Linked DNA regions of Homo sapiens. The protein of the gene in region 2 purifies or fractionates together with the protein of the main gene of each other region. This does not show direct contact. Each region holds a gene or a part of one and is shown on either strand. Other genes may lie near its edges. The genes, in order: COL1A2 and TMEM44.

Evidence for each region.
Region 1: the proteins of TMEM44 (region 2) and COL1A2 purify together in Homo sapiens (affinity purification with mass spectrometry; one large-scale study listed by BioGRID and IntAct). This does not show direct contact.

Annotation. Positions count from the first base shown.
Region 1 is NC_000007.14:94,428,637-94,431,876, reverse strand, and holds the end of COL1A2 (collagen alpha-2(I) chain precursor), read right to left. Parts: intron 2,690-3,240; coding exon 2,447-2,689; intron 1,631-2,446; coding exon 1,484-1,630; 3' UTR 650-1,483; downstream 1-649. UniProt on the Homo sapiens protein: Type I collagen is a member of group I collagen (fibrillar forming collagen).
Region 2 is NC_000003.12:194,609,206-194,613,028, forward strand, and holds part of TMEM44 (transmembrane protein 44), read right to left. Parts: intron 1,816-3,823; coding exon 1,711-1,815; intron 1-1,710.

The DNA.
Region 1 (3,240 bases), on a different chromosome or scaffold from region 2:
AACATTTTACTTGACACATTACTATGTTTAAGTGTATTAAAGATGTTATTGAAAGGTGCAGGGGAGGAAAATGAACTTGATTTGGCAGGTAGGTGTTCGTGGTACTATTATCCACAACTGTCTATCCTGATTGACAGCACACACATTACCTCTTAACAGGCATTGTATTCAGTTGCCTCAGATTTAAGTGTATGGCATTTTTACTGAATATTTGAAACTGTTTTAGTTAATAGTATTAATTGCTCATAGACCAACTTTCAGCCACTGTTATAAAGTGCTTAATATATAATAAACCAAGTTTCTATAGACCTTTGGTTATAGTAAAATTAGGTCAAAAATGCCATGTTGCTTAAATATTACATATTTTGAGTAGGGCAAATGCTTAATAGTGCTGAAAAGGAATTTTTTCATATTATAGCTATGGAAACTGAAATGCAGAGGCTCAGAGTTTCAAGGTCACTCAGCCACAAGGAACAGAGCCAGAACTGGAGTTCAGCTCTCCTGGGTCCTCGTTCTCTGCTCTTTCTACCACACCAAACTGCCCTTTTTGCATAATTTCTATCTAATCAGAGGCACTTGGTCTAATGGCTGGTAGAGATGCATATTTATATTGCAAAGAGCATTGAAGCAAGGAATTTTACTCAATATGTTCTTTTGGAAAACCAAACATGCTTTATTTCATTTTTTTCACAATTTATTTAAACATCTCACATATACAAAATAGGTACAATTTAATTTTTCTGCTTGCCCAAGAAACAAAGCTTCTGTGGAACCATGGAAGAAGATGAAAATGAGACTGGCAAAGAACAAATGCTGAATCTGAAGAAGATTTGGGCAAATAATCTGCATACTTTTAATTGGGAATAAGATGGAAAATATGAATGCTAAATCAAATTTTTTAAAAAATACACCACACGATACAACTCAATACAGGAGTATTTCTTCTCAAATTCTTCTAGCACCATCAACATTCTTCAAGTATCTGAAATACTATTAATTAGCACCTTTGTATTATGAACAAAACAAAACAAGGACCTCAGTTCATCTCTGTCTAGGTCAGCACCTAACAATGTGGATCACACTCATGGGAAAGTGTTTTGAGGTAGTTTAAACCTTTGGAAGTTTGGGTTTTAAACTTCCCTCTGTGGAAGATATTCAAAAGCCACAAGTGGTGCAAATGTTTATGGTTTTTATTTTTCAATTTTTATTTTGGTTTTCTTACAAAGGTTGACATTTTCCATAACAGGTGTAAGAGTGTTGAAAAAAAAATTCAAATTTTTGGGGGAGCGGGGGAAGGAGTTAATGAAACTGTATTGCACAATGCTCTGATCAATCCTTCTTTTTCTCTTTTGCCCACAATTTAAGCAAGTAGATGTGCAGAAGAAATGGAAGGATTCAGCTTTCAGTTAAAAAAGAAGAAGAAGAAATGGCAAAGAGAAAGTTTTTTCAAATTTCTTTCTTTTTTAATTTAGATTGAGTTCATTTATTTGAAACAGACTGGGCCAATGTCCACAAAGAATTCCTGGTCAGCACCACCGATGTCCAAAGGTGCAATATCAAGGAAGGGCAGGCGTGATGGCTTATTTGTTTTGTATTCAATGATTGTCTTTCCCCATTCATTTGTCTTTTTCTGTTTAAAGAGAAGAAAATAGATACACAAAGCATCACTATTTCTGAATCTGATAATATCTGAACCTTTGATTTAATAAGAACCACTGTTTGGCATGTGTCATTCTGAAGATGTCTGTCCCAGATAAATAAGTTCATCCTTGAAATAACAGTATCAAGGGTGTCTTTAGTGGGAGGGGCTCCCTATCAGTCTAACAAAAAACAAACAAACAAACAAACCAAAAAAACCAACAACATTTCAACACACATTCCAAGTGACCTATCTCTACAAAGTCATTTTTAGGATTGTTGTGTGTATGTCCCTCTATGTGTGTCTTTGGGAGCGGGACCTGGGTGGGTATGTAGTCTTGCTGTTAGTGAATTTTAATTTTTCTTATATTTATAGCATATTGTAGAAAAAGCATTAAAAGTTAAATGTAGGCCATACTAATAAGTAAAATAAAATACACATAACTATAAATTATAGTTTAGGCCACTGAAGTCTCAAGAAATTTTAAGTTCTGGGCACACATTACCATTTAAAAAACATGCTAAAGAAAAAACAATGCATGGACATAGTATACATTTCAGCATTTCAGAAGGCACTATCTGATAAGAATACTCTGAATTTATCATCTGAATTTAAGTACGAAATTAATACGTATAAATAAATAAATATAAAATACATACAAAAACTGAATTTACTTATGAAATAAGTTAGTTCTCTCATTCTTCTGTTCTTTTAACCCCCCTTTAGACCCCCCCTTGGGGGCAGTCTAAGTTAGAACCCCCTCCATCCCACTTCCCAAAGCTATTCCCATATTTCACTATTACTTACAGAGCAGCCATCTACAAGAACAGTGTAAGTGAACCTGCTGTTGCCCTCAGCAACAAGTTCAACATCATTAGAGCCCTGTAGAATGACAGCCTTTTTCAGGTTGCCAGTCTCCTCATCCATGTATGCAATGCTGTTCTTGCAGTGGTAGGTGATGTTCTGAGAGGCATAGTTGGCCAGCAGGCGCATGAAGGCAAGTTGGGTAGCCATTTCCTTGGAAGTCACTCCTTCTACATTATATTCAAACTACAGAAAATAGGATGAAATTCCAGTTAAGTGGAGAAGGACTCAGATACTAAGAGTCAAACATGAAAAAAAAAAAAAAGAAAAAAAAAGATCTCAGGAAGAGTAGACTCAGATCCAAGCTTAGGAAAAGGGTACTTTTAAAGAAAACTTAATTCACTTGTCTTTGAAGTATCAGTTACCTAGATGAACATAAGACCTACTAGACTGAGGCAAGGTCATCTAAAAAAGTTATCTGTTTCAATTAATCCTTTTTGCATATGCTTCTTCTTTAGAATAAGAGAATGAGGAGGTAGAAATTCTGACATTTTTCTTTTTCTGTCATTTTGTAATTTATGGAATTCCAGTAGGCATTCAGTAAAGTTGGTGAAAAGGTTTGATTAAAAATTCAGAAAAGCTGCTCACATTCTGAAAATGCATATGTATGAGTGTGGCATATAGCTGGCCAGTGCTCCTTCACACTAAATGACATTAGTCAGTTTTTTCAATGATTACCAATTAAGTCAAATTTGAATAATAACTTTGAATTACATGGATGTGTCCAATCAATCCAT
Region 2 (3,823 bases):
ATGGGCAGCTGGGCAGCCGAGATGGGAACTGAGGGGAGGGGAAAGGACGGAGACACGAATGGGGGAAGTCAGCAAGAACTGGTGTGCAGAGCGAGGGGACTGTGGGACTGCAGGGCCCACCAGGAGCAGGGAGCCTGCCTGGGACAGGGCGTTGGACTCCCTCTCTACAGTCAAGCTTACCCAGAGGAGCCAGCAGAGGCCGAGGGGAAAGAAGAGCCTGTGAGGGTGGCAGGAAACACAGAAGAGTGGGGGCCACAGACGCCAGGAGCAGCTGGTGGCCGAGTGCGTGGACTCTCAGAATGGAATGATGGTGGACTTAGCAGCTTGGAGGTCATCGGTGACCTCGACAAGACAGTCTTGGTGGAATAGTGGGACATGGGGTGAACTTCTCGTCACCTCTTTCCCAATTCTCTTCCTCCTGAGGACCCCTCGTGTAGGCCAGAACTCAGGGAGTCACCCGGAGCCCTGCCTCCCTCACCCGCACCTCCTCACCCCTCCAGCGCTCCACTTCCCAACTCGCTCAACTCTGTCTCTGCTTCTCCGTCTGCTCCAACCTCAGTTTAGGCCACACTTCCTTTTCCTCGGGCTTCCAACTGGCCCTGACTGACTGCTCGGCTGCTACTCTCCTCTCCCCCAGGCCACCCGCAACAACTTCCCCAGATGGCTCTAAAATGCACATCTGACCCTGAGTCTCCAGTACTCAAGCCTCCTGACTCCCATCACTCTCAAGATGATAGACACGGCCGGACGCAGTGGCTCACACCTGTAGTCCCAGCACTTTGGGAGGCCGAGGCCAGCAGATCACGAGGTCAAGAGATCGAGACCAGCCTGGCTAACATGGTGAAACCCCGTCTCTAGTAAAAATACAAAAATTAGCTGGGCGTGGTGGCAGGCTCCTGTAGTCTCAGTTTCTCTGGAGGCTGAGGTAGGAGAATCACTTGAACCCGGGGGGCTGCAGTGAGCTGAGATCATGCCACTGTACTCCAGCCTGGGCGACAGAGTGTCTCAAAAAAAAAAAAGAGAGAAAAAGATGATAGACTCCGTGTCTAAACGACCCGACCCCTGCCTCCTCCAGCCCTTTCATCTCCCCTCACTCCTAAATGGTACCAGCATATACCACCCCGAAATATGCCTCTTTAGCATATGGATTCCTTAGATCTAAAGGTCTTTGAAAACCAGCAGAAGCAGAAGCTATTAACCTCCCCTAACTGCCTGAAAAGAGAGTACACATTTTCCCTTTCATAAAGGAAATTTCCATTTGTAAAGATATTTCTGCACCAGGAAGAGAGCTACTTCCACCCGAGAGACTCTCACCTGCATAGCAAGAAAACCCTTATTTCCCACACAGGTCCTCCCTCACCTTGCCTCCCACCCCAGAACCCCAAACCTCTTTTTCTTGATTTAGCCTAATATGGTATATACGCCTCCATCAACTGGCCACCTCCTTGAGCCACATTTTTCTTTGTACATTTAAAGCTGTTTTTTCTTGTTACTCTGTGTTTCATCAGAGGGGACAGGGAAAATATTTTTCTCTCCAACACTCCCCCATATCTGCCCCTCCACTGCAGCCTTGGACAGCTCCTTCTTTTTTACCTGCTTCTCTTGTTTTCTCCTGCTCATCCCTCAGCTAAAGCATCACCTCCTCCAGGAAGCCTTCCATGACTGCTTCCCATCCTCTCAGACACCTGGCCATGACCGATGGCCACTCACCTGCTGCACAGGCTCGATGGTCAGCTCCATGTAGCGACTGATTGCTGTCATTGTCCTCAGTGACTTGCAGTGTGACAGTGTGGTGAGAGGCACCCAATCCAAATTCTTGCAAGTAGAGGCAGGGAGACAGAAAGGGGAATTCTCAAAGTCAGGAGGCATTTTCTAAAAACAAGGTCACATTTTATTCAAAAGGACCCCCGTGGTATTTTCTCTCTCTCTTTTTTAACGGCACGTCTCACTTTCTGCTTCCTATAAGATGTGTCTTATCTTTCTCTTCGAGGCCACAGTCATTTAGTGTTTCCCAAATTTTGCAACACAGTAGAATCAGCTAGGAATCTTTTTTATTTTATTTTATTTTTTGTAGAGACCAGTTTCACTGTACTGACCAGGTTGGTCTCAAAGTCCTGGGCTCAAGTGATCCACGAGTGATCCTCCCACCTCGGCCTCCCAAAGTGCTGGGATGACAGGCGTGAGCCACCACACCCGGCCTATTCTGCTTTTTAAGATCCCCAGCTGAGCAGCGATCTGGAGTGAAGCTGTGATCCAGGCACTGCATTCCAGCCTAGGGGACAGAGTGAGACCCTGTCGTACAAACAAAACAAAACAAGGAATGCCTACTTCCCACTTCCAGACATTCTGATTTCATGGGTATGAGATGTAACCGGGAAGTGGATCGTTTAAACGCGCCCCAGATGATTCTAACGTGCGGCCAAGTTTGCGAACCACTGCAATAGGTGCCCAATAAGTGCTTTTGCAAAGCTGTGGTTCTCTAACCTTGATGCACATCAGAAGCACCCTGTGGGTTTTGCTAAAATACAGATTGCAGCCGGGCGCGGTGGCTCACGCCTGTAATCCCAGCACTTTGGGAGGCCGAGGCAGGCCGATCACCTGAGGTTAGGAGTGCGAGACCAGCCTGGTCAACATAGTGAAACCCTGTCTCTACTAAAAATACAAAAATTGGCTGGGCAAGGTGGCGTGTGTCTGTAATCCTAGCTACGTGGGAGGCGGAGGCAGGAGAATCGCTTGAACCCAGGAGGCGGAGGTTGCAGCAAGCTGAGATCGTGCCACTGCAATCCAGCCTGGACAACAGTGAGACTCCGTCTCAAAAATAAATAAATAAATAAATAAATAAATAAATAAATAAAATACAGATTGCTGGACCACACCCTCAGTTTCAGATTCGGGAGATCTGGGTGGAGCCCCCAAATCTGCATTTCTCACAGTTTCCCAGGTAATCCTGGTCTAGGGCCCACACTTTGAGAACCACTGCTCTGAAGAACTGCTAGAGACTCCAGAGGCTTCTACTTCTCTCTTCAGAATTCCAAGACACACAGGGCTCTGTTAATATTTTGGCCCCCTTTTGGAATATAATTTCCTAACAGTTGCTAGAAAGAAATGAAAATAACTTCCCACTAGGGCCTCATGGGAACGTGGCTCTTTGGTCTGGGCACCTATATAAAAAATGCTTTCCTCTGCGTCACATACACCACGATCTTCTATTTCACGGACTCAGTCGGATCACATGGTTAAGCCATTTGGAGAACATTCGGAGGGGCAGTTTTTGTTTTTGTCGGTCCAAATGCACTCCCCATCACTTCCTCCATCCTGGCCACGGAGGAAGTTACTCACAGCCTCACACCCACTCTCTGTGAGAGGAGTCTAAGGTAGTGAAGAGCCCAGGTAATAGATGAGAGTTTTTTCCAAAAAAAAAAAAAAATTGAAATCTTAGAAAAGAGGGAGCCATTTTATATTCAAGTCCTTTTTTTTGAGACGGAGTCTCGCTCTGTCGCCCAGGCTGGAGTGCAGTGGCGGGATCTCGACTCACTGCAAGCTCCGCCTTCTGGGTTCACGCCATTCTCCTGCCTCAGCCTCCCGAGTAGCTGGGACTACAGGCACCCGCCACCGCGCCCAGCTAATTTTTTGTATTTTTAGTAGAGACGGGGTTTCACTGTGGTCTCGATCTCCTGACCTCGTGATCCGCCCGCCTCTGCCTCCCAAAGTGCTGGGACTACAGGCCTGAACCACTGCACCCAGCCTATATTCAAGTCCTTACAAGCTTTCTTTGAGTTACTTTCTCAATTATTTGGAACCAAAAACTTTTGATGAAGACAAA